Homo sapiens: one gene and its partner. The protein of the gene in region 1 binds, or shares a complex with, the protein of each later gene. Each region holds a gene or a part of one and is shown on either strand. Other genes may lie near its edges. The genes, in order: USP4 and SART3. A codon is read from its position in the direction of its gene.

Evidence for each region.
Region 2: the proteins of USP4 (region 1) and SART3 are in contact, whole or in part, in a crystal structure (PDB 5CTR), measured with the Homo sapiens proteins. Residues at the interface, in NP_003354.2 of Homo sapiens: Met24, Thr27, Leu28, Ser53 (codon at 1,513), Trp54 (codon at 1,516), Glu123, Gly125, Leu126, Phe127, Val128, Lys129, His130, Cys131, Lys132; in NP_055521.1 of Homo sapiens: Asp437, Ser438, Ser439, Lys440, Gln490, Arg493, Glu494, Trp496, Asp497, Met500, Thr501, Ala505, Trp511, Tyr514, Lys529, Arg533, Cys537.

The regions. Positions count from the first base shown.
Region 1 is NC_000003.12:49,320,755-49,337,053, reverse strand, and holds part of USP4 (ubiquitin carboxyl-terminal hydrolase 4), read left to right. Parts: intron 1-1,457; coding exon 1,458-1,585; intron 1,586-9,237; coding exon 9,238-9,368; intron 9,369-11,208; coding exon 11,209-11,335; intron 11,336-12,014; coding exon 12,015-12,160; intron 12,161-12,290; coding exon 12,291-12,352; intron 12,353-16,299.
Region 2 is NC_000012.12:108,541,875-108,558,173, reverse strand, and holds part of SART3 (spliceosome associated factor 3, U4/U6 recycling protein), read left to right. Parts: intron 1-8,959; coding exon 8,960-9,086; intron 9,087-10,182; coding exon 10,183-10,287; intron 10,288-12,850; coding exon 12,851-13,035; intron 13,036-13,641; coding exon of another isoform or gene 13,642-13,695; coding exon 13,696-13,747; intron 13,748-15,021; coding exon 15,022-15,146; intron 15,147-15,329; exon of another isoform or gene 15,330-15,362; coding exon of another isoform or gene 15,363-15,404; intron 15,405-16,299. UniProt on the Homo sapiens protein: U6 snRNP-binding protein that functions as a recycling factor of the splicing machinery. Promotes the initial reassembly of U4 and U6 snRNPs following their ejection from the spliceosome during its maturation.

The DNA of each region.
Region 1 (16,299 bases):
CTCGGCCTCTCAAAGTGCTGGGATTACAGGTGTGAGCCACTGCGCCTGGCCTTGTGTGTACATTTTTGGAACTCCTTTGGTCCTTAAAGGAAAACTGAAGTGGGTGGTGTTTCTAACCCATTTTCAGAAAGAGCATTAGTTTAGTGCTGTTCATGTCAAGCAAAACAGTGTAACCAAACTGTCTGCCTGGAGTGGGACTTCTGTAAAGATCATTATGAAATTAATGACTTGTGGCCGGGTGCGGTGGCTCACGCCTGTAATCACAGCACTTTGGGAGGCCGAGGTGGGCAGATTACCTGAGGTAGGGAGTTTGAGACTGTCCTGACCAACATGGAGAAACCCTGTCTCTACTAAAAATACAAAATTAGCCAGGTGTGGTGGCACACACCTGTAATCCCAGCTACGGGAGACTGAGGCAGGAGAATCACTTGAACCCGGGAGGCGGAGGTTGCGGAGAGCCGAGATCACACCATTGCACTCCAGCCTGGGTAACAAGAGCGAAACTCTGTCTCAAAAAAAAAAGAAGTTAATGACTTGTTTATTAGCAAACATGATTTTACCCATGAAAAGACTCCATTTAGACTGAGTGTGGTAGCTCATGCATGTAATCACAGCACTTTGGGAGGCCAAGGCAGGAGGATCACCTGAGATCAGGAGTTCGAGACCAGCCTGGCCAACATGGTGAAACTCCATCTCTACTAAAAATACAAAAAAATTAGCTGGGCCTGGTGATGCATGCCTGTAATCCCAGCTACTTGGGAGGCTGAGGCAGGAGAATTGCTTGAACCCAGGAGGTGGAGGTTGTAGTGAGCCAAGATCATACCACTGCACTCCAGCTTGGGCAACAAGAGCGAAAACTCCGTCTCAAAAAAAAAAAAAAAAAAAAAAGAGGCCAGGTGCAGTGGCTCATGCCTGTAATCCCAGCACTTTGGGAGGCCGAAGTAGGCGGATCACCTGAGGTCAGGAGTTTGAGACCAGCCTGCCCAACATGGTGAAACCCCGTCTCTACTAAAAATACAAAAATTAGCTGGGAGTGGTGACAGGTGCCTGTAATCCCAGTTAGTCAGGAGGCTGAGGCAGGAGAATCGCTTGAACCTGGGAGGCAGAGGTTGCAGTGAGCCAAGATTGTGTCACTATACTCCAGCCTGGGCGACAGAACAAGACTCCGTCTAAAAGAAAAAAAAAGAAAGACTGCATTTAAATAAGCATTTTGAAACCACTTGTTTTCTTTCTTTTATTCACTCTTTGAACAATCATTTCACTTAATGGATGCATACCCTGGGCCAGACTCTCTGTGCCATGTGGGGCCTGGGCCCTGCTCTTGCTCTTGTGACAGTGTTTTTTAGTGGGTATTGCATATGCCCCAAGTGGAAGGACCATAAAAAAGATTAAGGAAGCAGCTGCAGAAATTTATAATCTCAGCTTTTCTGCTACAGTAAATTTCTGTCTCTCTCTAGGTATCTTATTGACAGCCGGTGGTTCAAGCAGTGGAAGAAGTATGTGGGCTTTGACAGCTGGGACATGTACAATGTGGGTGAACATAACCTATTTCCTGGCCCAATAGACAACTCTGGGCTATTTTCAGGTATAGTAAATGTTGCTTTTCTAGCTAAACATTCACCTGGGCAGTGGCCTGATGTTATGTGCATCTGTAACATGGACGTTGTGAACTTTCCTAGTGTGAGGAGATAGAAACAAGTATCCTCATTTTGCATCTATAGCAGAAGTCTTTGCAAACCCTTAATGAGAAGTTAAGCTACTTTTTTCCCTTAAATTAACTGCATCTGATAAGAGTATGCTTCTAACATTTTAACTTTCTCTCTTTGCAAATTAGTTCTGCTAGCTATTTCACATTTTAAGTTAGTATATGGAATGGAAAGAAATAGGATGTCATTTTGAAATTGTATCTAAAATTTAAGAACCAGAATTTTTTGTTACCTTTGCAGTGGAACAAATTGTAAACCTGTGAACTTTCATCAAGAATTCCTGTGATGGCTGTTTTTATCATATAACTAGTGTGAGGAGAGGTTGAAGGTCAGTAGACAGAGTTATGACTGTAGTCAGCTCCCAATGGGAACTGTGGGAAAAGCGACATGTAACACACTAGAGCTTGCTTGCACTTGTACATGCACTGAGATGACAGAGTCAGCTTTTCCCAGGCTTTCTTTTGCCTGACTTCAGACCTCTTTAAAGTCATGATAGAGGTGATCTGTCATGGGTGTCAAAAATCAGGGCAGTGCCAGGAGTGGTGTCTCACGCCTGTAATCTCAGCACTTTGGGAGGCCAAGGCAGGTGGATCACCTGAGGTCAGGAGTTCGAGACCAGCCTGGCCAACATGGTGAAACCCCGTCTCTACCATGTTGGCTAGGCTGGCCTTGAGCTCCTGGGCTCAAGCTATCTTCCTGCCTCAGCCTCCTTAGTCACTGAGACTACAGTGTTCTACCACTCTCAGCTGTTTTTTAAGTTTTTTGGTAGAGACGGGGTCTTGCTATGTTGCCCAGGCTGGTTGAACTCCTGGCCTCAAGCCATCCTCCCACCTTGGCTTCCCAGAGTGTTGGTGTGAGCCACTGTGCCTGGCCTAACTTGGATATTTTTAAAACTGAGCAATGCTTCAGCTCAGACCTTGTTTTAGGAGAGGTCTACATGGTATAAACAATATCATTTACTTTGTTTCCTGAAATAGGTCAAATGGTGGCACTATGCCACGAAGTTGCCCTAAGGAATCATTTCATTATGTTCACATTTTGTTCTTTTTCTCATTTTTATGAAATGGAGAATTCTTAAGGTTTTAAATTCAGGCATACTTTGGCTTATTGTGCTTTGCTTTATTATATGTTGCAGATACTGCATTTTTAGCAAATTTTGTAGGTATTTGGCAACGCTGCCTTGACAATCTGTCAGTTCCATTTTTACAACAGCATGTGCTCACTTCATGTCTCTGTTACCACATTTTGGTAATTCTCAAAATACTTCAAAGTTTTTCATTATTATTTGTTATGGTGATCAGTGATCAGGGAGCTTTCTTTTTTTTTTTGAGACGGAGTTTTGCTCTTGTTGCCCAGGCAGGAGTGCAGTGGCATGATCGTGGCTCATGGCAACCTCCACCTCTTGGGTTCAAGTGATTCTCCTGCCTCAGCCTCCCGAGTAGCTAGGATTACAGGCATGTGCCACCACGCCCGGCTAATTTTGTATTTTTAGTAGAGATGGGGTTTCTCCATGTTGGTCAGGCTGGTCTTGAACTCCCGACCTCAGCCTCCCAAAGTGCTGGGATTACAGGCATGAGCCACCATGCCCAGCCAACAGGGATCTTTCATGTTGCTATTGTAATTGTTTTGGGGCATCATGAAGGGAGCCCATGTAAGACAGTGAACTTAATTGGTAATTATTGTGTGTATTCTCGCTGCTTCACCAACCAGCCATTCCATCTCTCTCTCTCTCCTCAGGCTTTGCTATTGCCTGAGACACAATGACACTGAAATTCGGCCACTTAGTAACCCTAACAACGTCTTCTAAATGTTCAAGTGAAAAGGAGAATTGCATGTCTCTCACTTCAAATCAAAGCTAGAAATGATTTGAGTTTGGTTAAGGAAGCCGAAATAGGTTGTAAGCTAGGCCTCTTGTGCCATATAGCTAGCCAAGTTGTGAATGTAAATGTAAACCTCCTGGACTTAAGTGATCCTTCCACCTCAGCCTCCTGAGTAGCTAGGACTACAGGTGCTTGCCAGCATTCCTGGCTCATTTTTGTATGTGTTTATTTTTTCTTTTTGTAGAGATGGAGTTTTGTCATGTTGCCTGGGAGATGGAGGAACCCAGGAAATGGTGGTTTCAGTGAGCTGAGATTGCGCCACTGCACTCCACTCCAGCTTGGGCGACAGAAGTGAGACTCCATCTCAAAAAAAAAAAAAAAAAGTGCTACTCTAGTGAACACATGAATTATAAGAGGCTGAAACAGCCTTATTATTGCTGATATGGAGAAAGTTTATTCATTTATTTTTTTTTTTGAGACAAGGTGCCATCTTGTCTCAAAAAAAAAAAAGGTAGCTACTGCTACCTCGTGCAGTAGCACAATCACACCTCACTACAACCTTGACCTTCCCAGGCTCAGGTGATCCTCCCATCTCAGCCTCCTGAGTAACTGGAACTACAGGCCCCACCACACTCGACTAATTATTGTATTTTTTGCAGAGATTTTTTGTGGGTTTTGTCATGTTGTTCAGGTTGATCTTGAATTCCTGGGCTCAAGCAATCCTCCCGCCTTGACGTCCCAGAGTGCTGGGATTACAGGTGTGAGTCACTGTGCCCAGGCTAAACAACAGGTTTTATTTTATTTTATTTTTATTTATTATTATTATTTTTTTGAGACAGAGTCTCACCATGGGGTTTCACCATGTTGGCCAGGCTGGTCTCAAACTCCTGACCTTAAGTGATCCGCCTGCCTCGGCCTCTCAAAGTGCTGGGATTACAAGCATGAGCTACTGTGCCTGGCCTAAACAACAGATTTTAAATGTAGACAAAACACCCTTCTATTGGGAAGATGCCATCTACCTCTTTGCTGCTAGAGGGGAAAAGTCAGTGCCTGGGTTCAGAGCCTTTTTTTTTTTTGAGACAGGGTCTTGCCCTGTCACCCAGGCTGTAGTGTGTGATCACAGCTCACTGCAGCCTTAACCTCCTGGGCTCAAGTGATCCTCCCACCTCAGCCTCCTGAGTAGCTAGGACTACAGTTGCTTGCCACCATGCCTGGCTGATTTTTATATGTTTGTTTGTTTGTTTGTTTTGTAAGACAGAGTCTCGCTCTGTCGTCTAGGCTGAAGTGCAATGGCACAATCTTGGCTCACTGCAACCTCCACCTCCCAGTTTCAAGTGATTCTCCTGCCTCAGCCTCCCAAGTAGCTGGGATTACAGGTACCTGCCACCACACCCAGCTAATTTTTTTTTGTATTTTTAGTAAAGACGGGATTTCAGCACGTTGGCCAGCCTGGTCTCGAACTCCTGACCTCAGGTGGTCCACCCGCCTTGACCTCCCAAAGTGCTGGAATTACAGGTGTGAGCCACTGTGCCCAGCTTTGTATTTTTTTTTTTTTTTTGTAGAGATGGGATTTTGCCGTGTTGCCCGGGCTGGTCTCCAACTCCTGGGCTCAAGTGATCTGTCTGCCTTGACTTCTCAAAGTGCTGGGATTATAGGCATGAGCCACTCTGTCCGGCCAGATTCAGAGCCTTGAAGGACAGGCTGACTCTCTTCTTAAGGGATACTGCAGATGGTGACTTTAGTTTGAAGCTAGTGCTCATTTATCATTCCAAAAATCCCAAGGCCCTCAAGAATTATGCTAAATCTGCTCTGCCTGTGCCCTACACATGCAACAACAAAGCCTGCATGATAGCATATTTATTTACAGCATGGTATACCGAATATTTTTGTTTTTATTTTATTTTTCTGGGACAGAATCTCGCTGTGTCGCCCAGGCTGGAATGCAGTGGTGCAATCTCGGCTTACTGCAACCTCTGCTTCCCGGGTTCAAGTTATTCTCATGGCTCAGCCTCCCAAGTAGCTGAGATTACAGACATGCACCACCAGTTCTGGCTAATTTTTGTACTTTTAGTAGAGATGGGGTTTTGCTATTTTGGCCAGGCTGGTCTCAAACTCCTGGCCTCAAGTGATCCACCCGCCTTGACCTCCCTAAGTGCTGGGATTACAGGCATGAGCCACCACAACAAGTTTACCGATTTTTTTTTTTTTGAGTCGGAGTTTTGCTCTTTTGCCCAGGCTGGAGTGCAATGGTGCGATCTTGGCTCACCACAACCTCTGCCTCCCAGGTTCAAGCGATTCTCCTGCCTCAGCCTCCTGAGTAGCTGGGATTATAGGCGTGCGCCACCACGCCCAGCTAATTTTGTTTTTTTAGTAGAGACGGGGTTTCTCCTTGTTGGTCAGGCTGGTCTCGAACTCTCGACCTCAGGTAACTGCCCACCACGGCCTCCCCAAGTGCTGGGAGTACAGGTGTGAGCCACCACGCCCGGCCTCCCAATATTTTTTTTTTTTTTGAGACGGAGTCTTGCTCTGTCACCCAGACTGGAGTGCAGTGGCGCGATCTCGGCTCACTGCAAGCTCCGCCTCCCGGGTTCACACGATTCTCCTGCCTCAGCCTCCTGAGTAGCTGGGATCACAGGCGCCTGGTGCCTGCCACCACACCCGGCTACTTTTTTTGTATTTTTAGTAGAGACGGGGTTTCACCATGTTGGCCAGGATGGTCTCAATCTCCTGATCTCGTGATCCACCCATCTCGGCCTCTCAAAGTGCTGGGATTACAGGTGGGAGCCACCGCGCCCGGCCTCCGGCCTCCAGCCTCCAGCCTCCCAATATTTTTAGCTCAGGGTTGAGACCTACTGCTCAGAAAAAGCACTGAGCTAATCTTATCAAAATGTTACTGCTGCCAGGTGCAGTGGCTTACGCCTGTTATCCCAGCACTTTGGGAGGCCAAGGTGGGCGGATCACGAGGTCAGGAGATTGAGACCATCCTGGCTAACATGGTGAAACCCTGTCTCTATTAAAAATACAAAAACAAAATTAACCGGGTGTGGTGGCGGGTGCCTGTAGTCCCAGCTCCTCGGGAGGCTGAGGCGGGAGAATAGCATGAACCCGAGAGGTGGAGCTTGCAGTGAGCCGAGATGGCGCCACTGCACTCCAGCCTGGGGGACACAGCGAGACTGTCTCAAAAAAAAAAAAGTTACTGCTCCATTGCAATGTACCTAGTTACCCAAGAGCTCTGATGGAGATGCATGAGGAGATTAATGTTGTTTCATGCCTACTAAAAACATCCGTTCTGCAGCCTGTGAGTCAAGAAGTAATTTCAACTTTTTTTGTTTGTTTGTTTGTTTGTTTGTTTGTTTTGAGACAGAGTCTCACTCTGTTGCCCAGGCTGGAGTGCAGTGGCTCAGTCTTGGCTCCCTGCAACCTCTCCCTCCCAGGTTCAAGCAATTCTCCTGCCTCCTCCTACCAGGTTCAAGTAATTCTCCTGCCTCAGCCTCCTGAGTAGCTGGGATACAGGTGCCCGTCCCTCCACCTGGCTAATTTTTGTATTTTTAGTAGAGACCAGGTTTCACCATGTTGGCCAGGCTGGTCTCAAACTTCTGACCTCAAGTGATCCTCCCGCCTCAGCCTGCCGAAGTGCTGGGATTACAGGCCTGAGCCAGCGTGCCTGATTTGATTTCAACTTTCAAGTCTTATTATTTAAGAAATACATTTTATAAGACTTTATCTGCCATAGATAGTGATTCTCCTGAAGGATCTGGGCAAATTAAATTGAAAACCTTTTGGAAAGGATTTACCATTCTAGATGCCATTAAGAATATTCATGATTCCACCTGGTGCAGTGGCTTATACCTATAATCCCAGGACTTTGGCAGGCTGAAGTAGGTGGATCCTTTGAACCCAGGAATTGGAGACTAGGGTGGGCAACTTGGCAAAACCCCATCCCTATAAAAAATACGAAAATTAGCTAGGCCTGGTGGCATGCACCTGTAGTTCTAGCTACTTGGGAGACTAAGGCAGGAGGATTGCTTGAGTCTGGGAGGTCGAAGCTGCAGTGAGCTGTAATCATGCCACTGCACTTCAGCCTGGGTGATAGAGTAAGGCCTGCCACTCCCACCTGCCCACACACACACACAAAAATATTCATGATTCATGGGAGGTCAAAATCAACATTAATAGGAGTCTGGAAGAAGTTCATTCCAACACTTACGGATGACTTCAACGGGCTCAAGACATCAGTGGGAGAAGTAACAGCAAAAGTGGAAATAGCAAGAGAACTAGAATTAGAAGTGAAGCCTGAAGATGTGACTGAATTGCTTTATTTTTTATTTTTACTTTTATTTTTATTTTTTTTGAGATGGAGTTTCGCTGTGTCACCCAGGCTGGAGTGCAGTGGCGCAATCTTGGCTCACTGCAACCTCCGCCTCCTGGGTTCAAACAATTCTCCTGCCTCAGCCTCCCAAGTAGCTGGGCTACAGGTGTGCACCACCATGCCCAGCTAATTTTTGTGTTTGTAGTAGAGACGGGGTTTCACTACCCTGGCCAGGCTGGTCTTGAACTCCTGACCTCATGATCTGCCCACCTCGGCCTCCGAAAGTGCTGGGATTACAGGTGTGAGCCACTGCGCCTGGCCTATTTTTAATTTTAATTTTTATTTATTTTTATTTCTTTTGAGACAGAGTCTTGCTCTGTCACCCAGGCTGGAGTACAGTGGGGTATCTCGGCTCACTGCAGTCTCCACCTCCTGGGTTCAAGCAATTCTTATGCCTCAGCCTCCCGAGTAGCTGGGACTACAGGCATGCATCACCATGCCCAGCTAATTTTTGTATTTTTACTAGAAATGGGGTTTCACCATGTTGGCCAGGCTGATCTTGAATTCCTGACCTCAAGTGATCTGCCTGCCTCAGCCTCCCAAAGTGCTGGAATTACAGGCATGAGCCAACATGCCCGGCCTGAATTGCTTTAATCTTATGATAAAACTTGAATGGCTGAGGAGTTGCTTCTTATGGGTGAGCAAAGAAAATGGTTTCTTGAGATGGAATCTATGTCTGGTGAAGATGTTATGAGCATTGTTGAAATGACAACAAAGGAACCCTGCCCTGAAAAAGGTGTGTAAACTAGTCGGAGGGATGGTGGGAAACCATAACCACCTCATGTATGATTTATTTATTTTTGAGATGGAGTCTTGCTCTTTCACCAGGCTGGAGTGCAGTGGCGTGATCTTGGCTTACTGCAACCTCTGCCTCCCGGGTTCAAGCAATTCTCCTGCCTCAGCCTCCCGAGTAGCTGGGACTACAGGTGCCCGCTACCACACCCGGCTAATTTTTATATTTTTAGTAGAGACGGGGTTTCACCATGTTGGCCAGGCTGCTCTCAAACTCCTGACCTCATGATCCAACCGCCTCAGCCTCCGAAAGTGCTGATTACAGGTGTGAGCCACCACACCCAGCCTGGAGTTTTTCTTTTTTATCCTCTTCTCTCCCTCCAATTATAGAAGAAATACAAATTCCTCATAAAATCTTCATGGATAAAGAGAAAACATGGATAAAGACAAAAGTCTGCTCTGTATAATGACCAGTGACAGAATTTTGGAATTTCATTCCTGTTTCTTTCTGTAAATAATTTTCTTATTTCTGAAAAGTACATGGAAATCATGTAAAACCATCATTTCTGGGGTAAAGAGCAGTGACTTATGTGCTCTTTTCCTTTTTTAGATCCTGAGAGTCAGACCTTGAAAGAACACTTAATTGATGAATTGGACTATGTATTGGTCCCTACCGAGGCGTGGAATAAACTACTAAACTGGTACGGCTGTGTAGAAGGCCAGCAACCCATCGTCAGAAAAGTGAGTTATGTGAATTGTCCCACCTGCTGGTCACTGTCTGCAGGTGCTTTCTGTTGGACACTGACTAGTGTTTGCTAGGAAAATGAACATACCTCAGTGGTTGAATAGTGGTGCTTGAGGCCTTGTTTCTGGATCTCTTTTTTTTTTGAGATGGAGTCTTGTGCACTTGTCGCCCAGGCTGGAGTGCAACGGCACGATCTCGGCTCACTGCAGCCTCTGGCTCCCAGGTTCAAGTGATTCTCGTGCCTCAGCCTCCTGAGTAGCTGGGATTACAGGCGCCTTTCACTACGCCTGGCCAATTTTTGTATTTTTAGTAGAGACGGGGTTTCGCCATGTTGGCCAGTCTGGTCTCAAACTCTTGACCTTGTGATCCGCCCGACTCGGCCCCCCAAAGTGGTGGGATTACAGGCGTGAGCCACTACGCCCAGCCTGTTTCTGGTTCTCTTTAGGAAATTGTGGTTGTGAGTGAAGTTGCTCACCCAGAATATTATCATGAGTGGCCTCTAAACATCAGAGCTGCCCAGTGGCTTGGAATGTGCCCAGCAGCGCTGTGAGAGAACTTTCTGGAAAATTCTATGAGAGAAAGTTCACTGGGGGCATATGGACATATAGCTAATGTCCTGCATCTTGTTTATCTTAAAAAACCTTTATGATACTGCTTTTCCCTCTATGCTTAAGAGTCTTTGAGCTAGGCGCAGTGGCTCACATCTGTAATCCCAGCACTTTGGGAGGTTGAGGCGGGTGGATCACGAGGTCAGGAGATCAAGACCACCCTGGCCAACATGGTGAAACCTCGTCTCTGCTAAAAATCCAAAAATTAACTGGGTGTGGTGGCACATACCTGTAGTCCCAGCTACTCGGGAGGCTGAGGCAGGAGAATTGCTTGAACCCAGGAGACGGAGGTTGCAGTAAGCCGAGATCACCCCACTGTACTGCAGCCTGGCAACAGAGTGAGACTCGGTTGCAAAAAAAAAAAAAGAGTCTTTGATCAGGCCGTGCATGGTGGCTCACGCCTGTAATCCCAGCACTTTGGGAGGCTGAGGCAGGCGGATCACGAGGTTAAGAGATCGAGACCATCCTGGCCAACATGGTGAAATCCTGTCTCTACTAAAAATACAAAAATTAGCTGGGCATGATGGTGGGCCCCTGTAGTCCCAGCTACTCGGGAGGCTGAGGCAGGAGAATCTCTTGAACCCAGGAGGTGCAGGTTGTAATGAGCTGAGATCGCACCACTGCACTCCAGGCTGCTGACGGAGGAAGACTCCATCTCAAAAACAAAAAACAGTGAAGAATAGGCTTCTCTCTAATATCATCAAGATGCTCTTGGTCTTAGTGGGTAGAAAAAAAATATATATATATTTTTTTGCGGGGTACAGAGTCTCGCTCTGTCGCCCAGGCTGGAGTGCAGTGGAGCGATCTTGGCTCACTGCAGCCTCCACCTCCTGGGTTCAAGCGATTCCCCTGTCTCAGCCTCCTGAGTAGTTGGGATTACAGGCACATGCCACCATGCCCGGCTAATTTTTGTATTTTTCATAGAAATGGGGTTTCACCATGTTGGTCAGGCTGGTCTCAAATTCCTGACCTCAAGTGATCCACCCACCTCGGCCTCCCAGAGTGTTGAGATTACAAGCGTGAGCCACCACACGCGGCCAGAAAAAATATTTTTAAACTCTTTGTCCAGGTACTGGTAGCTTTAAAAATCTGTTCTTTTGATCCCTTGATCAGTAAAGGAAATGGATTATCATGAGTTTTCTGCTTTTTGCTTCTGATAAGATATGCTACATCCAAGACTGCCCAGCTGCAAAACCGCTATGCCCTCACCCCTGCCTCTTGTTCATAGGTTGTGGAGCATGGCCTGTTTGTCAAGCACTGCAAAGTCGAGGTGTATTTGCTGGAACTGAAGCTCTGTGAGAACAGTGACCCCACCAATGTGCTGAGTTGCCATTTCAGCAAGGCAGACACCATTGGTGAGAGGCTGGGCTGGGGTCCCTGGTATGTGGTGAGAGAGTGTAGGACATTGTGGCTGATGGGAGGGAAGAGGGCATTATTTTATATGCCCTCTTTAGATTTGTTACCCAAATCATCTCGAGCTGTAGTTGCCAGTCCTGACCTGGGGGCCTATTCCTCCAGGAATTCTTATGGAGAGAACACTGGGCCTGCTCCTTGCCCATTTGTCTATGATAATGAAGATAAGGAAATGTAGATCCAAAGAAGTTTAAAAATAACTTATTTAAAAATCTCAGCAAGGTTTACAGTGAGCTACGATCCCACCACTGCACTGCAGCCTGGGCATCAGAGCAAGATCCTGTCTCTTAAAAAAAAAAACAAATCGCAGCCAGAAAATGGTGGAGCTAGCTTTTGAAGCCATATCTGAGTTAACTCCAAAGATAAGCTTTCTCGCTTTCTATGTTGCTTTTGCGCCATAAATGAGAGACACACGTTAGCAAAGAAGCATAGGGATACTTTCCAGGCATATGAGTGCAAGAGGCCACCCATGGGAGATGATTGATTTTAAGAGGTATCAGGGGGTTGATCCAGAGCACCTGTGAGCATCTGACAAGAAAGAGGATGAGCATTAGTTTGCCATGGCTGTCTTTAGCCTTGCATGTGGACAAAGCCCCAAGTGATATTTCTGCCTGTTCCTAGCAACCATCGAGAAAGAGATGCGGAAGCTATTCAACATCCCTGCGGAGCGTGAAACACGGCTCTGGAACAAATACATGAGCAACACCTACGAGCAGTTGAGCAAGCTAGACAACACTGTCCAGGATGCTGGGCTATACCAGGGTCAGGTAGGAGGGCCCTGGCCATTCCCCAGCAGGTAGCTCTGCCCAGGGTGTGTGGCCAGATACTTTTTGCTTCTAAGCATGTTGGAAGTGCGGTGGTTTGAACTCTCCTCATTTGGTTTCCCCTTTCACTCAGGTGCTAGTAATTGAGCCTCAAAATGAAGATGGCACATGGCCCAGGCAGACCTTGCAGTCAAAGTAAGTGAATTTTTTCTCCCTTGTTGTAGGCTCACATGTGCAAAAGAGACAGTCTTTCCTAAGGCAGTACTTGTACTAAGAAAAATTGTTCTGATTCAGATGAACAATGCCTATTTTGTATATCCAGAGTTCATGCTTCTGGATGAAGACCGTGGCTTTTGGTAGCAGGGCAGCATCTAAGGGAAGCCTGTCAGGATATCTCAGCAAGGTGGCGAGCCTCTGCTCGTGGAGAATGAGAAAAGGAGGAAGGGATATGAGGGATCAAGTCTAAGGTTGCTGCTCTACCAGGAGGTTGCTTTGTTTTTGTCACGCTTTTATTTTCTCCACATGTAGTTAGAGGCCTTGATGGATAAGAGGAAGGCTAAGGCATGGGGTTTTATATGACTTAAAAGTGATAGTTGAGGCCTGAGCATGGTGGCTCATGCCTGTAAGCTCAGCACTTTGAGAGGCCGTGGGAGGTGGCTCACCTGAGGCCAGGAGTTCGAGCCCAGCCTGGTCAACATGGTAAAACCCTGTCTCTACTAAAAATACAAAAATTAGCTAGGCATGGTGGCAGGTACCTGTAATCTCAGCTACTCGGGAGGCTGAGGCTCAAGAGTCGCTTGAATCCAGGAGGTGAAGGCTGCAGTGAGCTGAGATCGCACCATTATACTCCAGCCTAGGTGACAGTGCAAGACTCTGACCCAAAAAAAACAAAAACAAAAAAAAAGTGATAGCTTGATTCTACCTGTTTCTGCCCAGTGGCCTGTTACTCATTGTTGCCCTGGGAGCTTGCTGGGTGAATTGTTCAGCTACAAAACTTGGACTAAGGACACATCTGTTTCAAGAGATGTTCATGTGGTATGTGGAACTGTGCATGTTCTTAGGGAGATAAAGAAGTGATTAATTTTCGTTATGGTATAAGTTTTGGAAATTATATCTGTGTTCCAGTAGTTATGGGAATAATGTTGCGCTCTGTCCTTTTCCCTCTGTCAGGCCTTGGACTGTGACCATTACATAGTAGTGGGCTCCTAGGTCATTTGAGAACCATGAAAACTATGAGTTCTTAAGAGAAGAACTGTTAGAACCCCTGAAGTCCAGTCATGGACTCCAGTTTAAGAAACCCCGGTTGCCAGTTGTTGACAAGATAAATAAAATAGCTGTGGTAGGCATAGCTGTGCTCATCTTCACCCTGAGATATCCATATCCTAATTCCCAGAATCTGTTTCAGAATCTGTCATTATGTCAGGTGACATGGCAAAAGGGACTTTGCAGATGGGATTAAGCACAATGGTGAGTGCCTGTAGTCCCAGCTACCTGACAGGCTGAGGTGGGAGCATTGCTTGAGTCCAGGAGTTTGAGGCTGCAGTGAGCTATGATTCTGCCATTGCCCTCCAGCCTGGGCGACAGCAAGACCCCATCTCTTTTTTTTTTTTTTTTTTTTTTTTTTTAAAAAGGCCAGGAGCAGTGGCTCATGCCTGTAATCCCAGCACTTTGGGAGGCCGAGGTGGGCGGCTCACCTGAGGTTGAGAGTTTGAGACCAGCCTGACCAACATGGAGAAACCCTGTCTCTACTAAAAATGCAAAATTAGCCAGGCGTGGTGGTGCATATCTGTAATTTCAGCTACTTGGGAGGCTGAGGCAGGAGAATCGCTTGAACCCGGGAGGCGGAGGTTGCAGGGAACTGAGATTGCACCATTGCACTCTAGCCTGGGGAACAAGAGCGAAACTCCATCTCAAAAAAAAAAGAATGTCTGTTCACCAGTGAGTGAAGACAAGCCATAAGCCATACAGTGAGAGAAGAGATTTGTAATCCATGTCTGACAAGTTGTGTCCAGAATTTTTTTTTCTTTTTTTTTTTTCCCTGTGACGGAGTCTTACTCTCTTGCCAAGGTTGGAGTGCAATGGTGCGATCTCAGCTCACTGCACCCCCACTCCCGGGTTCAAGTGACTGATGCCTCAGCCTCCCGAGCAGCTGGGACTACAAGCTCCCACCACCATGCCCAGCTAATTTTTGTATTTTTAGTAGAGACAGGGTTTTACCATGTTGGCCAGGCTGGTCTTGAACTCCTGGCCTGTAGTTATCTGCCTGCCTTAGCCTCCCAAAGTGCTGGATTACAGGCATGAGCCACCACAGCTGGTCGTATATCTAGAGTTGCAAAGAAATTCCTACTAGTCAATACAAACAAGTCAGGCAACACTAGTAAAAAAAAGAGGCAAAAATGTAGAATTATATGCACATTCTGCTACTCAACAATCCTGTTGTTAGGCATATAACCAATAGAAATATATCCCATGTTCTCTTAAATACATATTTCAGGATGTTTGTGCTAGCACTGCTTGTCATAGTTACAAACTGGAGCTAACCCAAATGTCCATCAAAAGTAAATGGATAAACTGCAGTAAGTGTAAGCACACAAGGAAATTCTGTCCAGCTTTGCACAACAGTGATGAGTCTAATGAAAAATGATGAATGAGAGAAGGTAGACACAGAGCAGGGCATAATGATTCTGTTGACTTAAAACTTTATAACAGGCAAAATTAACCTTGGGGATTCATGGTCAGAACTGGTTAGTGTTGGGAAGAATTGCGACTGAATCGTGAGAAGGACACCTAGGGGTCTGGGGGTGTCCTGTTTCTTGGTCAGGGTAGTGGTTACATGGATGTATCACTTGGTGCAAATTTCTTGATTTTATACACTCAGGGGTTTTGTTTTTTTGTTTTTTTAATAGACGGAGTCTTGATCTGTAGCCCAGGCTGGAGTCCAGTGGCATGATCTCGGTTCACTGTAACCTCTGCCTCCTGGGTTCAAGCAATTCTGTGCCTCAGCCTCCTGAGTAGCTGGGATTACAGGTGCATGCCACCCATGCACAGCCAATTTTTGTATTTTTAGTAGAGACGGGGTTTCACCATGTTGGCCAGGCTGGTCTCGAACTTCTAGCCTCAAGTGATCCGCCTGCCTCGGCCTCCCAAAATGCTGGGATTACAGGCATAAGCCACGGCGCCCGGCCAAAAAAAATCAATAATAGGCCAGGTGCGGTGGCTGGCCAACATGCTGAAACCCCATCTCTTAAAAAATAGAAGAAAATTAGCCCGGTGCAGTGGCACATGCCTGTAATCGTAGCTACTGGGGAGGCTGAGGCATGAGAATGGTGGTGGGGATTGCAGTGAGCCTAGATCGTGCCACTGCACTCCAGCTTGGGCGATACAGTGAGACTCTGTCTCAGGAGAAAAAAAAAAAAAAGGTACAATAATAATCAAGGTTTAAGAAAGCAACTAGTATCTATAATATTCCAGAGATAAATTCTGGGTAATTCCAACATAGGTGAGGAATTAGTATAGAGCAGAGAGAGATGAGAATGTCCAGAACTACTATTCTTGAGGATGAGAAAGGTGAACAATTGTAAGTTTATGTAATTTATGGGGAAAAATAAAAATAGAGATCCTAATAAGTTAATGGAACAACTAACAGAAACGGAAAATTGAATGTATAACTTTGAAACATACTACGTCAGTTAGGAAAGGCTTGCTGGCAGGTAAGAAAAATCTGCAAATTAGCGTATTAAGCAAGATGGAGGCTTACATCTTTCTGAAAAGAATTTCTGACGTAGGCAGTCAATCCATTGCTGACGTAGCAGCTCCATGGCAATATTAAACCCAGCTGACCTACCCCTTCCTTTTTAGGACATTTCTCAGATATCATACATCAAACCTCCTTTGTATCTCATTGGCTAATCATATGACAATACCTGGCTTTCAGGAAGGCTGGGATGTACTGTATAGCAGGACTGCATCATGTCCAGCTAAAAACTGGGGTTCTCAAACTAAGGAAGGAGGGGAAAATAGCTAGCAGGAGGCGACTAGCAAACTGCCACACCTGCAAAAGGAAAATTAATGGAAGGCAAAAATGAAGGGGGGAAAAAATAAGAAGTATGGTAATTAGAAAGCATGTTAGAACATGTGGAAAA
Region 2 (16,299 bases), on another chromosome or scaffold:
TTTTTTTTTTTGAGAGCATCTCACTCTTGCCCATGCTGGAGTAGTGGTGTGATCATGGCTCACTGCAGCTAGGACCTCCCAGGCTCAAGTGATCCTCCCAGCTCATCCTCCAAAGTATCTCGGACTACAGGCATGCACCCCCATGCCTGGCTAATTAAAAATATTTTTTTTTTGTAGAGATGGGTTCTTACTATGTTGCCCAGGCAGGTGCTGAATTCCTGAGCTGAAGTGATGCTCCTGCCTCAGCCTCCCAAAGTGCTCGGATCACAGGCGCAAGCTACTGCACGTGGCCTTGATTATATTTTATGGTAGCTGGCAGTTTGCTGTGGTATCTGTCTAACAAAAGCAAATATTTTCCATTATATGTGTTTGTGCGCTGAAATTAAAAGTGGCACTTCATGGTGGCTTCGGCAGATTTGTCAGTGCAGCAGTACGGAGACTATGGCTTTGCAACCCTGAACCCAAGCCTTCCATTGAGTAGTGGAAAGGCCTTGTACAAGTTATTTCAGCTCGCAGAGTCTTGGGTGTCCCAGTTAGTAAAATGAAGGTTGTAATAGTGCTTTCCTCATGGGACTGTTGTGGGGCATGGCACAATGTGCGTAAAGCGCCTGGCACAGTTTGGCGCATAATAGGTGCTGCTCCATTCTCCCTTCCCTGCCTTTGATTGCACCAGTTGTTTTCTTTCCATCAGTCCTCTCTATTATTTCTCCCCCATTCTAGTACAGCTAGGTATAACACATTTTTCACATTGCTAGGGAGTTAAATCAGTTAGCAGATCATTTTGTGATTGGTTAAGTTTCCTTTAAAGCATCTATGTTGTTAATCCCAGCTACTCGGGAGGCTGAGGCAGGAGAATCGCCTGAACCCGGGAGGCAGAGGTTGCAGTGAACTGAGATCACACCACTGCACTCCAGCCTGGGTGACAGAGCAAGATTCCACCTCAAAAAAAAAAAAAAAAAAAAAAAAACTATGTCATTAATGATGTTCTAAGACCAGAATAGACCAGCATATGTACTCATTTATCAGTATAGATTGAACTATGTGGAAATAGCTCTTTTAAGTGCATTTCAGTATGTATTTAATATATGTACTTTCAGAGTACTTGTCCACATATAGTATCTTCATCATTTTACCCTAAAAATCAGAAGTTTACACCAAAAGCCACACCTTAAAAGTCAGCTTCTTGACTTTAGCGACTTTTATACCTTTTTCTTCTGCTGATCCACACATGGTGTTCATGTGAGGGGCACTTGCATGCATAGATATTCGTGACACTGACTAGCAAGTGCTCTCCCACTCCTGTTTGTGCTCCGCAAGCACACTCTATTGAGTTCAGACTGGTGATGTGGTGGGGAGAGCCTTGAATGTTCTTTAATGAAGAAAGTGTATCCTTCTCAAACTTCACTTCTCAAACATCCCAAACTGCGGTTACTTTGTGTGACACACTTGATAGGTGATTTTGAAACATCAGTGTGTCATGATAGCCCATTTAAGAACCAGAGCTTTAGCCCAGCTCTTTCATGGTACAGATGAGGAAACAGAACAAGTGGGGATTAGAACACTTGTGTCCTGATCTGGTCCAGTGCTTTTCAGCCTATCGTGTGATCATCGGATGAGTTCAGCTTCTCAGGTTTTATGAATCATAAGCAGGAGAACATTGCTAAAAGTCTTAAGATTTAAAACTTAGAGATCATGTTCTTATCTGTAATTGATTATTATCTTTTGGCATGTAATTTGATAAATACAAAGCAGTTCACATCATGTACAAGAGTTTCTCACCAGATGCAGTGGCTCACACCTGTAGTCCTAGCATTTTGGGAGGCTGAGGCAGGATGATCCCTTGAGCCCAGGAGTTTGAGACCAGACTGGGCAAGATGGTGAGACCCTGTGTTTACAAAAAATAAATTTAAAACATTTAGCTATGTGTGGTGGCATGAGCTTGTAGTAGCAGCTACTCAAGAGGCTGAGGCGGGAGGATCACTTGAGCCTGGGAATTTGAGGCTGCAGTGATTTGTGACTGCCACGGCACTCCAGCCTGGGTAAGAGTGAGACCCTGACTCAAAAAAAAAAAAAGAGAGTTTCTCAAAGTCACTGTTTTTCAACCTGGGGGTCATAGTCATAGGTTGTGAATTTATTTTAGCTGAAACAGCAAGTGCCACCTGAGCCATAGTGTTTTTCAACTGCATGGGTCTGTTTTGGGCTCTCTCTTCAGTTTGTCTATCCTGTGCCAATTCCACTGATTAACTTATTGCTAAGGCTTGCTATCTGGTAAGACAAATCCTCCTACCTGCTTTTTTTCTTTCCTTGCAGGGTGTTTTGGCTCTTTCATATAAATTTTAGAATTATTTTGTCAAGGTCTGTGAAAAACCCTGTTGGTTTTTTTATTTGAATTGCATTGAATTTATGGATTATTTAGGGGAGAATTGACGTCTTTGCCATAATGATTATTCTAACCCAGAACATGCATATAACTCCATTCGTCTAGGTATTGAATATTCTTTCTATTTTTGAGACATGGTCCTGCTCTGTTTCCCAGGCTGGAGTACAGTGGCATGATCTCAGCACACTGCAACCTCCGCCTGCTGGGCTGAAGCGATCCTTTCACCTCAGCCTTTCGAGTAGCTGGGACCACAGGCATGTGCCACCAGACTCAGCTAATTTTTACAGTTTTTGTAGAGACGGGGTTTTGCCCTGTTGCCCAGGCTGGTCTTGAATTCCTGGACTCAAGTGATCTGCCTGCCTCGGCCTCCCACAGTGCTGGGATTACAGGTGTGAGCCACCGCCCCCGGCCAAGTCTTTAATATCTTTCAATCAAGTTTAAAAACATTTTGCCATAGAGGTCTCACACATCTTTTGTTAGATGTATTTCTAGGTACTTTATAGTGCTTGATGTTTATGCTATCCTATTTAAAATTACATTTTAAAGCTTGCTGGTTTATAGAAATGTAATTTTTTTATTGTAAAAAACATATAACGTAAACTTTGCTATCTTATTCTTAAGTGTATGGTTCAGTAGTGTTAAGTATAGTCACATTGTTGTGAAGCAGATCTCCAAAGTTTTCATTTGCATATATACAACTCTACCAATTAAACAGCTCTCCTTCTCCTTCCTTCCCAATCCCCTGATAACTACCATTGTAGTTTTCTGTCTCTATGAATTTGACTAGATACTTCATATAAGTGGAATCATACAGTATTTGTCTCTTTGTATATAATTGATTTTTATACATTGCTCTTATTGCTTGTCACTTTGCTAATCTTGTTTATTATTTCCAAATGATTTGTTTGTAGATGAGTTTTGGTTTACTATACATTGATATCATCTGACCATAATTAACAGTTCTCATTCTTTTCTCTATATCTGTTTCTTTTCCTTGTCTCATTGTTAAAACCCCAGACCTCCAGTACAGGGTTAAATAGAAGGCAATACTGGGAAGTTTTTTGTGTTTTTTAAAAGGAATTTTAATGTATTATTAAATTTACTAAATATAAATATATAAATATATAATAAACAATATAATAAATATATAAATATGTTATTAAAATATATTTATTGCAGATTTTAAAAATCAGGTTAAGGAAGTGCCTTTCTATTCCTAGTTTGCTAATTCTTAATTTTGACTCATGAATGGATGTTTTAATCAAATGCTATTTCTTCATTGAGGTAATCATGTTTTTTTCCCTCAAATCTGATGGTGGAAAAATTATACTGGATGATTTTGTAGTGTAAAAACACCCTTGCATTCCTGGGATAGACCCAAATTGATCATTATGTATTGTTCTCTTTATACATTTCTGATTTTTTAATATTTTATTTAGGATTTTTGTATTAATGCTCTTGAGTGAGATTGACATGTAATTTATTGAATTCTGTGTGCCAGGTAGGTAAAGAATCTAACCAAGTCAAGGATAAGACATACAAGGTACTTATCCCATGAAGCCTTTAGGTCATGATGGAAATAAACACGATGATGAGATGGAAAACAGCTTGCAGCATATAGGGGGCTACTTAAGAAAGAGTGGCATAGGAGGGGGGCCGGGGGCGCCCTCTGAGGAAGTGAAGTTTATACCTGAAGTATGAAAAGGGGTGGCTAGGCAGAGAGAAGGTGAGAGATCCTTCTGGGCTGAAGGAGCAGCAGGTGCCTAGCCCTGAGGTTGGAGAGACGTTGGAATGTTTGAGTTACACGAAGCTGGCTGCCATGTTGAGAGGCCGGTGGTTTGAGATGTAGCTGGAGAGATGAGCCCAGCATGCTGGGATTGCACATGAGGCAGGGATTTGCAAATTGTTCCTAGGATACTGGGAAGCCATGGAAGGGTTTTACTATTATAATTAGTAGAGAAAGATAATGAGTTCTTGTTTAAAATCTAAACACTTGAACAAAACCCCGTAATCCTTCATATTTGTATTCTCTGAATGGTTGGTCCTTGTCCCCACTCCATTTAAAGGTTCACTGGCTACTTCATTGTTAAGATTTTTATCCTAAAGTTCAAGTAATCATATTCATTGGCTGTCTTTCTGTATTTTAATTAAATATCTAGTACCTGGATTATTAGGGTATGTTGTCAGATGGTAGAGTGTAATTTGAATGAAGTGTAGGTAATCTTTTATCTCTGGAGAGGGAAATATTCCTAAAATGTGGCAGATGTTGGAAGAGTAGATACTAATGAAGTCTTGGTGTACAGACTTAAATTATCCCTATATCCCAACAAAAGCTTTTTAAACAATTCGCCTTTTTATTTTGAGATAATTGTAGATTTCCATGCACTTGTAAGAAATAATAGAGATTTTTCGTGTACTTTTTACCCAGTTTCCCTCAATGATAACACTTTGAGGAACTATAATATGTAATAACCTGGGTATTGACATTGATATAGTCAAGATACAGATCAGTTCTGTCACCTTAAGGATCCTTGATGTTGCCTTGAAATTTTTCTCTTGTCCTAACATTTTGTGATGTTATATTTACATTTCACATTTAAGTGTGATCCATTTTGAGTTATTTCTGTAAGGCGTGAAGTTTAGGTCAAGGTGTATTTATTTGTTTTGCCTGTGGATATCCATTTGCTCCAGCATCATTTTTTGAAAATGCCTTTTTTTTTCCTCTGTTGCATTGCGTTTGTCAAAAATTATTTGGGCATATTTGTGTGGGTCTGTTACTGGGTTCTATTCTCTTCATCTATGTATCTTTCTGCCATTCTCACACTGCCTTGATGATTGTAGCTGTATTGTAGGTTTTAGTATCAATCAGGTAGAGTGATTACTCCCACTTTATTCTTTTTCAAGATCATTTTTAGCTATTCTAGGGCCTCTGCCATCCCATATACATTTTAGAATAAGCTTGTCTAGGTCTACAAAAAACCTTGTTGGGATTTTAATTGGAGTTTCAGTAAGCCTGTAAGTCAGTTTAGGGAGAATTTACTTCTTGACTATGTTGAGTTTTTCAATCCATGAACATGAAGTGTCTCTTTTTTTAGGTCTTTGATTTCTTTCCTCAGCATTTTGTAATTTTCAGCATACAGATTTTGTAAACTTTTTAAATATACACCTAATTATTTAGGTTTTTTGGAGTGATTGTAAATGGTGCTATGTCTTTAAATTTGGTTTCCACATGTTCTTTTGTTTTTTTTTTTGTTTTTGTATGTTTATCTTATATTCTGTGACCTTGCTCAGTTCACTATTTTTGGAGTTTTTTTTTTTTTTAATTGGTTCCTTAAGATTGTCTACTTAGCCATATCATCTACAAATCAGGACAGTTTTATTTTTCCGAGCTGTATAGCTTTTATTTCTTTTCCTTGTCTTATTGAACAGGCTAGAACTTATAGGACTTTGTTGGAAAAGAGTGGTGAGAGCAGACATCCTTGCCTTGTTCTTGATTTTAGGAGGAAAGTGTTCAATCTTTTACCATTAGGAATGATGTTAAGGTAACCCTATATCCCAACTTATGGGATAGATTTTTTATAGATGCTCTTTATCAGGTTGAGGTTGTTTCCCTCTATTCCTAACATGCTGAGTGTTTTAACCATGAATCGTTGTTGGATTTTGTCACATGCATTTTCTGCATCTATTGATACCATGAGTTTTCTTTAGCCTTTTGATACACTGGATTACAGTAATTGATTTTTAAATGTTGAATTAGCCTTGCAAACCTGGAATAAATACCACTTGGTCATGGTGTATAATTCTTCTTATACACTGAATTTAGTTCTTTAAATTTTCCTCCGTACTGTTTTAGTAGCATCCTACTTATTTTGATTTGTTGCAATTTCATTTTCATTCACTTTTTTTAATTTGTAAATTTTCTTGGAGACTTCCTCTTTGACCTGCAGATTATTTAGAAGTGTATTACTTAATTTTCACGTGTTCAGAGATTTTCTTACTGTTAGTGGTTTCTAATTTGATTCCATTGTGGTCACAAAACATACTCTGCATGGTTTTCATTTCTCTTAAATTGTTGAGGTTTGTTTTATGGCCAAGGATATGGCTTCAGTGAATGTTCCGTAAGTACTTGAGAAAAATACATATTCTGTATTGTTGGGTGGGCTGTTCTCTATATAAATTAGGTCATGTTCGTTGACGGCGTTATTGAGTTCTTCTATAACCCTGTTCTGCCTAGTTTAAAAAAAAATTAAACAATTTCCTTTCTTTTTAAAAACTTAAAAATTTTTTAATTTGCTTTTGTCTAATTTTCTTTTTCTTTTATTCATCTTCTTTTTGACCAGGTTCAACATATTCAAGTGTCTAGTAGTTTTATCAGTTGCTGAAAAGGGAGATGTTGAAGTTGCCAAATGTAATTGCTGCTGTGTCTCTTTGAGCTCTGTAATAGTTTTTGCTTCATGAATTTTCAAGCGCTCTTTGGTTCCTACACATTTAGGATTGTTATGTCTTCCTGGTAGATTGATCTATTTATTATTATGTGTCATTATATAATCCTTTTTATCTCTAGTAATTTTCTTTGCTCTGAAGTGTACGTTATGTGATATTAATATGTCCGCTTCAACTTTTTAATTAATGCTTGCATGTTATCTTTTTCTCTCCTTTTCCTTTCAACCAGTTTACCTGTGTCTTTGAATTTGAAATGAATTTCTTGTACTCACCATATAGTTGGGTTGTGTTTTTATCCACTCTACCATTATCTACCTTTTAATTAGCATATATGCACCATTCGCATTTAAGGCAATTGTTGGTTTATTCAGACCAAAGCCTGCCGTTTTACTATTTTCTGTTTATTTTCTGTTTCTCATTCTTCTGTTTCTCCTTTCTTGCCTTTCTGTGGATTATTTGAATATTTTTTAGATTTTCATCTTGATTTATTTATTTATTTTTTTGAGATGGAGCCTTGTTTTGTCACCCAGGCTGGATCTCTGCTCACTGCAACCTCCGCCTCCCGGGTTCAAGCAATTCTCCTGTCTCAGCCTCCTGAGTAGCTGGACTACAGGCATGTGCCACCACACCCAGCTAATTTTTTGTATTTTTTGGTAGAGACAGGGTTTCACCATGTTGGCCAGGCTGGTCTTGAACTCCTGACCTCATGATCTGCCCGCTTTGGCCTCCCAAAGTGCTGGGATTACAGGTGTGAGCCACCATGCCCAGCCATCTTGATTTATTTAAGGTGATTTTTAGTGTAATTGCTTTGAATAGTTTTCTCAGTGGTTGCTTTGGGTATTAAAATATACGGAGTTGACTTACATGGTATCCGTGTTTTACCACTTGAATGAAGTGAGGGAATCTTCCATTTCAGTTCTCTTTCCATCCCCACTTTTAAATAATACTGTGTTGGGTATCAGAAGTTCTTACAATGTTTGTTCCATTACATATGATTTAGAAAGCTCATGAGGAGAGGAGGATAATCTGTCGTAGTTCCCGTATTTCTGCTCTTCCTGTTCTTTCTTCCTTTTTGATGCTTTAGGATTCCTTCTTCTAACTTTTCTGTTCGAAGAACTTCCTTTAGCTATTCTTCAAGGGTAGGTCTGCTAGTGACATTTTTTTCATTTTTCTTTGTCTCAGATATATGGTAACTTAAAATAATTTTAGTTTGAAAAGTTTCAAATGTACAAATAAAACTTTATGTACCTGTCACTCAGCATCAACAGATACCAACCTGCTGCCACTCTTGTTTCTCTAATAGGGATTTCTATCTTTTTTTTTTTTTTTTTTTTTTTGAGATTGGGTCTTGCTCTGTCACCCAGGCCTAGAGTGCAGTGGTGTGGTCTCGGCTCGCTGCAACCTCTGTCTCCCAGGCTCAGGTGATCCACTTCAGCCTCCCAAGTAGCTGGGACCACAGGTGCATGCCACCATGTCTGGCTAATTTTTTGTATTTTTGGTAGAGATAGGGTTTGACTGTGTTGCTGAGGCTGGTCTCGAACTCCTGAGCTCAAGCAATCCACCTGCCTCGGCCTCCCAAAGTGCTGGGATCACAGATGTGAGCCACCACAACTGGCTTCCATCTTTTTTATTTAGTAAAATAAAAGAGGTCTTACAGTGTACCTCACATGTGCTAAAGGACGTTATGAAATTACCTTTTTATTTTTTAGTTTTTCTTAAAGACCAGTGTAACAGTAGAAATTTTTTAAATCCTTGGAAGACCTGGTATGAGCTAGAAACTAGTAGTGTCCTCATTTTATAGATGAGGAAATAGAGCTTAGGAAAGTAAATAACTTACCTAAGGTCACATACTTTTTATTTGTTTCATTAGAATGCCTCCTTTATTTCCAAGAGAACCCAAATGTCTTCTAACAGGAACTGTAACAGATTTGAGGGAGCTTTATGTTTGTTACAAAAGCCTCTTTTATTGTTTTGTCTTCTACCTGTGGGTACGTGCTGGGTTGCTGTTTCAGTGGTTTTCTCAGATAGCACGTTTATTTTGTTTGTGGCAGGTATATGTGTAGTTACCAGTAGTGACAAAAGCTAAGTTACTTGATGACGGTGTTTTAAATTTCAACTTGTTTCTTTTCCTGTTAGTTGTCTATCAACGTCTATGACTACAACTGCCATGTGGACTTGATCAGACTGCTCAGGCTGGAAGGGGAGCTTACCAAGGTGAGGATGGCCCGCCAGAAGATGAGTGAAATCTTTCCCTTGACTGAAGGTAAGCTTCAGCAGTCAGGCTGCTTTTAGAAACAGAAACAAGGCTTGCACATTTTTTACAATGTTGAAAGTGGGACATGCTCCTTGTAGAAAACCTGGAACGTTCAGTGTAGTGGAAAGAAGAAAACGCATCAGAGTTAGCTATTTTTAGTTTATTGTAGTTTTTTGCAAAATGTAGTTATGATCATATAACACGGATTTTGAATTCTGATTTCTTTATTCTAACGTTGTGGTAAACATTTGTAATGTAATTAAACTTGGCTTTCATTTCTGTATTTCCCATTTCACTATTTATGTATTTAAACCATTCTCTTGAAACCAGAAAATTGTAAATATATTTAAACTTTTACAGACAGTTTTTTATGTAAATGTTTCATACATTAATTGTTCCAGAATAGTTGGGCATTTAGGTTATTTCTACTTATTTGCTTATTAGAAACATAATTGCACTGAACAACTCTGTAGTTCAATCTTCATGAATATTAATAAGTGATCTTTGGGCAGTACTTAGAACACTTTGGTCCTAGATCCCACTCTGCCCCTTTTCCCTTCTGCAAAGCATAACTGCCGAGTGTAGATGCTGGAGTCAGGTGACCTAGATTCATTCCTGGCTACATCTTTTACTAGCTGTGTGACCTTAAGCAAATTATGTAAACATTCTAAGACTCAGTTTTTCTAGCAGTTAAATGATGGCAACAGTAGTTTCTGCATTGTAATGTATGACGGTATAGGATGAGCTATTCTACGTATAACACTTAACACATGCCTGGCATGTTGTCATCCTTAGATAGATGTCATTATTATTAGTGTTACTATCACCAACCTTACAGGATTGTGATAAAGACTGAATGAGAAAAGTGCTTTGCAAAATATAAAATGCCTAACAGGTGGAGGATATTATGATTTTAGTGATTTGATCTTATTTGGAAGCATAAAACCTCCTATGTGCTTAGTTCAGGTTTTAAGAAGTGAATTTCTGGAAACAACGCCAGGTTGTGTAAGATGGATGAAACGTTTGCATGCTGATGTCTCTTGGTAAAGTCCCTGCGCTTAGCCTACCCTTTGGTATTAATGCGGGAAGTATTTTTGTCTCGTAGAGCTCTGGCTGGAGTGGCTGCATGACGAGATCAGCATGGCCCAGGATGGCCTGGACAGAGAGCACGTGTATGACCTCTTTGAGAAAGCCGTGAAGGATTACATTTGTAAGTTCCCGTGGACTTTTTTTGGATATCTGGCAATGTCATATATATCAGTCTGCTGTTGAGGACTGTATTATGAGATGTTGCTACCCAGAAAAGGGAACGTTAGTTTCACAATTAGCAAGATTTAAGTTGAGTTGTCTTATCATTGTCTTTGGTCTTTAATTGAGGAAGTTTAATTTTAAAATAAAAGTGGAAGAAGCACTTGTAGTAAGGGAATGAATACACTCACACTCAGGATTTATTGACAGTGAGAACTTACATGGTATTTCCACTGATCTTTTATACATTCAATAGGTTTTTAGAGGTTTTGGACAGGATGCTTTAAAAAAAAAGATTAAAACATTAAAAGAAAACCTTTTTATTTTGAAGTAATTATAGAGTCATAGGAAGTTGCAGAAATAGTACAGAGAAGTCTTGTGTACTCCCTTCACCCAGTTTCCTCCAATATCTTGTTTCTGTAATACAAAATCAAAACCAGGAAATTGACCTTGGAACAATGGGAAAAAAAAGACATTTTATTACATGTGTAGATTCATCTAACCACTGCTGCAGTCCAGATACAGAGCTGTTCTGTCCCCACAGAGACCTCCCTCGCCTGCTGGTATTGACATCTTACCAGTGCAAGTGAAGTATAGAAGACTCACCTCCCTTTAAGTCTCTTTACCGTCCCTTGTATATAGTATAATTGTCTTAAATATTTTCTCCATGTGAATTGGGGACCACATCAGACAATGCTGTGGACAAAATGCTTTTAAAAAGCGTTTTAAGGCTGGGTGTGGTGGCTCACGCCTGTAATCCCAGAACTTTGGGAGACCAAGGCTGGTGGATCACTTGAGGTCGGGAGTTCAAGACCAGCCTGGCCAACATGGCAAAACCCCGTCTCTGCTAAAAATACAAAAATTAGCCAGGCATGGTGGCACGTACCTGTAATCTCAGCTACTCAAGAGGCTGAGGCAGGAGAATTGCTTGAACCTGGGAAGTGGAGGTTGCAGCGAGTTGAGGTTGTGCTACTACACTCTAGCCTGGGCAACAGAGCAAGATTCTGTCTCAAAAAAAAGCATTTTAAGGCCAGGCATGGTGGCTTATGCCTATAATCCCAGCAGTTTGGGAGACTGAGGCAGGCGGATCCCTTGAGCCCAGGAGTTCGAAATCAGCCTGCCCAACATGGGGAAAACCCCATCTCCACTAAAAATACAATTAGCCGGGCGGGGTGGCATGCAGGCCTGTAATCCCAGCTACTCAGGTGGCTGAGGCATGAAAATTGCTTGAACCCAGGAGGCGGAGGTTGCAGTGGGCCGAGATTGTGCCACTGTACTCCAGCCTTGGCGACAAAGTGAGACTCTGTCTCAAAAAAAAAAAAAAAAGCATTAAAAAAATTTCCCCTTTCAGACTGGGCATAGTGGCTCACGCCTGTAATCCCAGAACTTTGGGAGGCTGAGGCAGGTATATCACGAGTTCAGGAGATTGAGACCATCCTGGCTATCACGGTGAAACCCCATCTCTACTAAAAATACAAAAAACTAGCTAGGCGTGGTGGCATGCTCCTGTTGTCCCAGCTACTTGGGAGGCTGAGGCAGGAGAATTGCTTGAACCCAGGAGGTAGAGGGTGCAGTGAGCCGTGATCATGCCTCTGCACGCTAGCCTGGGCGACAGAACGAGACTGTGTCTCAACAAACAAACAATTTCCCCTTTCAGATTTCGTACCCTCTTCCTTGTTGATTTCCCAATGGGAGCAGTCCCCCTGTGAGAAGCATTGCTACTAACCAGATAGACTGTTCTGAGATGATAGAGAATTTTTTGTGTATCTTTACAAGCCAAGAAGAATTCACAGTTTTTTGGTTTATAATCTGAATAATGAAAATAAGCGGTGTTTTATGAATATAAAACTATATTATATGTGTGTTTTTTTTTTTTTTTTTGAGAGAGAGTCTTACTCTTTCGCTTAGGCTGGAGTGCAGTGGTGTGATCTCGGCTCACTGCAACCTCCCCCCTACCCAGGTTCAAGCGATTCTCCTGCCTCAGCCTCCTGAGTAGCTGGGACTACAGGTGCCTGCCACAACGCCTGGCTAATTTTTCTATTTTTAGTAGAGACGGGGTTTCACCATATTGGCCAGGCTGGTTTCGATCTCCTGACCTTGTGGTCCTCCCACGTCAGTCTCCCAAAGTGCTGGGATTACAGGCGTGAGCCACCGCACCTGGCCAAATGTGTTTTTAAAAACTATACCTGTATCTCTGCTCTGTGGCCCATGAGTCTTCTTTTAGAGCCACTGATAATTTTAGCAGTGCATGGTGTTCCCATGATTTCTGATGATCCTGTTACCCCCTTCTTACTCTCTCACAGGCATTGTTAATAGCACCATTTATCTTTTTCTGAGGATCTATGGTCTTCCCCAGACTGTAATGTTTTTTAGTCCTTTATGGTCATCTCTGCTGTTAGGCCTTCACTGTCATTTAGTGCTGCTGTCTGAGTACTTTTTTGGTAGGCACATTTCGTTTGTTATGCATCAGTTTTGATATTTGGGTATTTTATATCCCAAACTAATTGAACACTTCTTATTTTTAGGTCCTAACATTTGGCTAGAGTATGGCCAGTACTCAGTTGGTGGGATTGGTCAGAAAGGTGGCCTTGAGAAAGTTCGCTCCGTGTTTGAAAGGGCTCTCTCGTCTGTTGGTTTACATATGACCAAAGGACTCGCCCTCTGGGAGGCTTACCGAGAGTTTGAAAGTGCGATTGTGGAAGCTGCTCGGGTGAGTACCTGTGGTTGTCTCTGAACGGGTTGGGGCTGTCTTTGTAAGTCTCCTTGGAAGGATTATTTTGAAACACATGTCCATGATGAATCTTGCAGTTCATATAGTTAACAAAATGGTCTTTGCCAATCCCTTAGTGGTGGGGTGATAGATAACCTTTTTTTATACCCCTTCTAGCATTTGGTACAATATGTATGGAAGAGGTCGTATAAATTTTTTTAGCTTGAACTGAAAATTTGTTGAGATATTTTTTGAAGTAGAAAGAACCAGAGTTGGCCAAGTGCGGTGGCTCATGCTTGTAATTCCAGCAGTTTGGGAGGCTGAGGCCAGAGGATCACTTGAGTTCAGGAGTACAAGACCAGCCTGGGCAATGTAGTGAGTCCCCATCTCTACAAGAACTAAAACATTAGCTGGGCATGATGGCGTATGCCTGTGGTCCTAGCTACTCAGGACTCTGAGGTGGGAGGATTGCATGAGCCTGGAGTGTGAGGCTGTAGTGAGTTGTGATCACACCACCACACTCCAGCCAGGGTGACAGCAAGAACCCTTCTCAAAAGAAAAAGAAAGAACCACAGTTTGTCATTTACTACTAATTTGCTTCTTTAGCCCGTAGCTGGCTTCCTTTCCCCTTTTGACCGGGAACAAACCTTTGATTCACAGCTTGAGAAAGTCCACAGTCTTTTCCGGCGACAGTTGGCGATCCCACTCTATGGTAAGAGAAACTGACATGTCAACAGCCAGCCCTCTATGGTTTTTAAAATGCTTTGGGGAACAACATGTAGTTAGACCTTTCCCACCATCCTGTGAGGCAGGTAAAGCTGGTGTTCTTACTCTCCTTGGATATTGTCTCTTTGGATGAGGTCCTTGGTAAAAACATCTTGAATGTTAGTGCTTAAGAGGGTTGTGAGGGTCAGAGGCAGGACTGGAAGCCAGACTCCCTGACTCCCAGGTGAGAGCTCTTTTCTCCTTTGAGACCTAGTTGGAAGGGCAGAGATAGGGTCTCTGAAAGGAATAGTGAATGACACCTGTATTTTTTGGGGAAACTTCATTGAACAAGAGTTCCATTATAATCATTTTCTCTTCACAAGTAACCTCTTCCATAACAGCAGGAATTTTACATGAGTTTAGATCATTCCTCTATGGGAGGGATTTGGTTCAGAAGTGCAGTTGATTGGAAGTACTCATAAGTGAGTTTCTTGGGGTTTGGTAAAGAGTTTCCTTATTTGGTAAATACATTTTGGCAATCTAAGCCTTTGAGTCTTTGGAGCTATGAGTGTGTGCGTGCTGGGAGGATTTTTCTGAGTATGGGAAGAGTTTGTCATGGCTGTTGTGTTTGTTCCCTAGACACGGGCATGTGTTGTACATACTCAGAACCTCTGGGCAACTTTACTGGAGCCCACATGTTATTTCTCTTCATGGTTTATTGGATTTAACAAGTTATAAAGTAGTCGTCTAATCAAATGGTTGGGTATCATGCAGAAAACACTAGAGCTGAGCCGGCTTGCAGATTTCACCTACCAGCGTGAAACAACCTAGCATAATGATTAGAGTGCGAACTTGAGCCAGACTGCTTGGGTTCACAGCCTTGCTCTACCATTAACTGTAGACGAGCAACTGAACCCTCTGCTTCAGTTTCCTCAACTGCAAAATGAGGATCACAATAGACTACCTTGTAGAGTGGGATGACTGAATGAGTTAGTGGATGTGAAGTGGTAGAACATAGGTAACACTGGGTAAGTGTTGTTAAATCGTTGCCACTAGTGTCATTGACTGATTAATTAGCTGGGAGGGTTGCCTGGGACATTGTTTTAAGACAGATTCTACAGACAGGTTTGGGCTCAGCAGAAATCAGAATTTGATCAGTAAGAGCTGCCATGCCACAGATGTGGGAGGGGCTAGTGGCACCTGAGTCTCATGGCTTAATCTGTGTTTGGGTTGATAAAGCCCAATGGCAAGACCCACGGGGCTGAATCCATCTTTCAATAGATATGGAGGCCACATTTGCAGAGTATGAAGAATGGTCAGAAGACCCAATACCAGAGTCAGTAATTCAGAACTATAACAAAGCACTACAGCAGCTGGAGAAATATAAACCCTATGAAGAAGCACTGGTAAGTGTTGGCTTCTTTTATAGTAAACGTCTCTCTACAAACCTTTCCCTGATGGATAGTTGCGAGTTAAACAGTATCTTTAAAATGTTTTATTCTGAAATATATAGAGTGTATAAATGTATACGTACAGTTTACATACTAATAATAAAGTGAACATCCATGTACCTACCACCCAGGTTAAGAAATAGAACATTGCCAGTACCTTAGAAGTCTCCTATGTGCCCCTCTCCGATTGCCTCCTCCTCCCTCTCCCGAGAGGTAATCACTTTCCTGACTTTTGTGATGATAATTCCCTTGCTTTTCTTTATAGTTTTACAAGCTATGAAAGTATCCTTAATTAATATATTGTTTAATTTTGCTTGCTTTTGAACTTTTATATATTGGAATCATGCTGTATATTTTATTTTCATTGAACATGCTTTTGGGTTTTACTCATGTTGCTAAGTATAACTCCGGTGCATTTGTTTTCACTGCTGTAAAGTTGTCTGTGTACTGCGATGTATTTATCCATGTTGCTGGATAGTTGGGTCATTTCCAGGTTTTTGCTAGGAGAAGGAGCAGCGCCACTCTGAACATTCTTGTGTGTATCTCCTTGTACACATGAAAAAGAGTTTCTCTAGAATACGTACTTAGGAATGACTTTGCTGGATCATAGGGTGATGTTAAAGTGTTTTCCAGGTTATCAGTTTGCACTGCTGTGAGCAGTATCTGAGAGTTCTCGTTGCTTGTGCCAATCTTGGATATTGGTCATACTTAAATTTTACTTAATTTGATGAATTTGAAATTGTAGTTTTAATTTGTATTTTCTTGGTTACTAATGAAGTTGAGCATCTTTTCACGTGGATTGGCCATTCAAATTTTTGTGCGTGTTAAAGTGTTCAGGCTGGGCACAGTGGCTTATGCCTATAATCCCAGCACTTTGGGAGGCCAAGGCGGGAGGATTGCTGGAGCCCAGGAGTTTGAGATCAGCCTGGCAGCGTAGCACAACCCTGTCTCTACCAAAAAAAAAAAAAAAAAAAAAAAAAAAAAGCCGGGCTTGGTGGCATGTGTCTGTAGTCCCAGCTTCTCCAGAGGCGAAGGTAGGAGGATTGTTTGAGCCCAGGAGGTCAAGGCTGCAGTGAGCTGTAATCATGCCACTGCATTGTCACCTAAG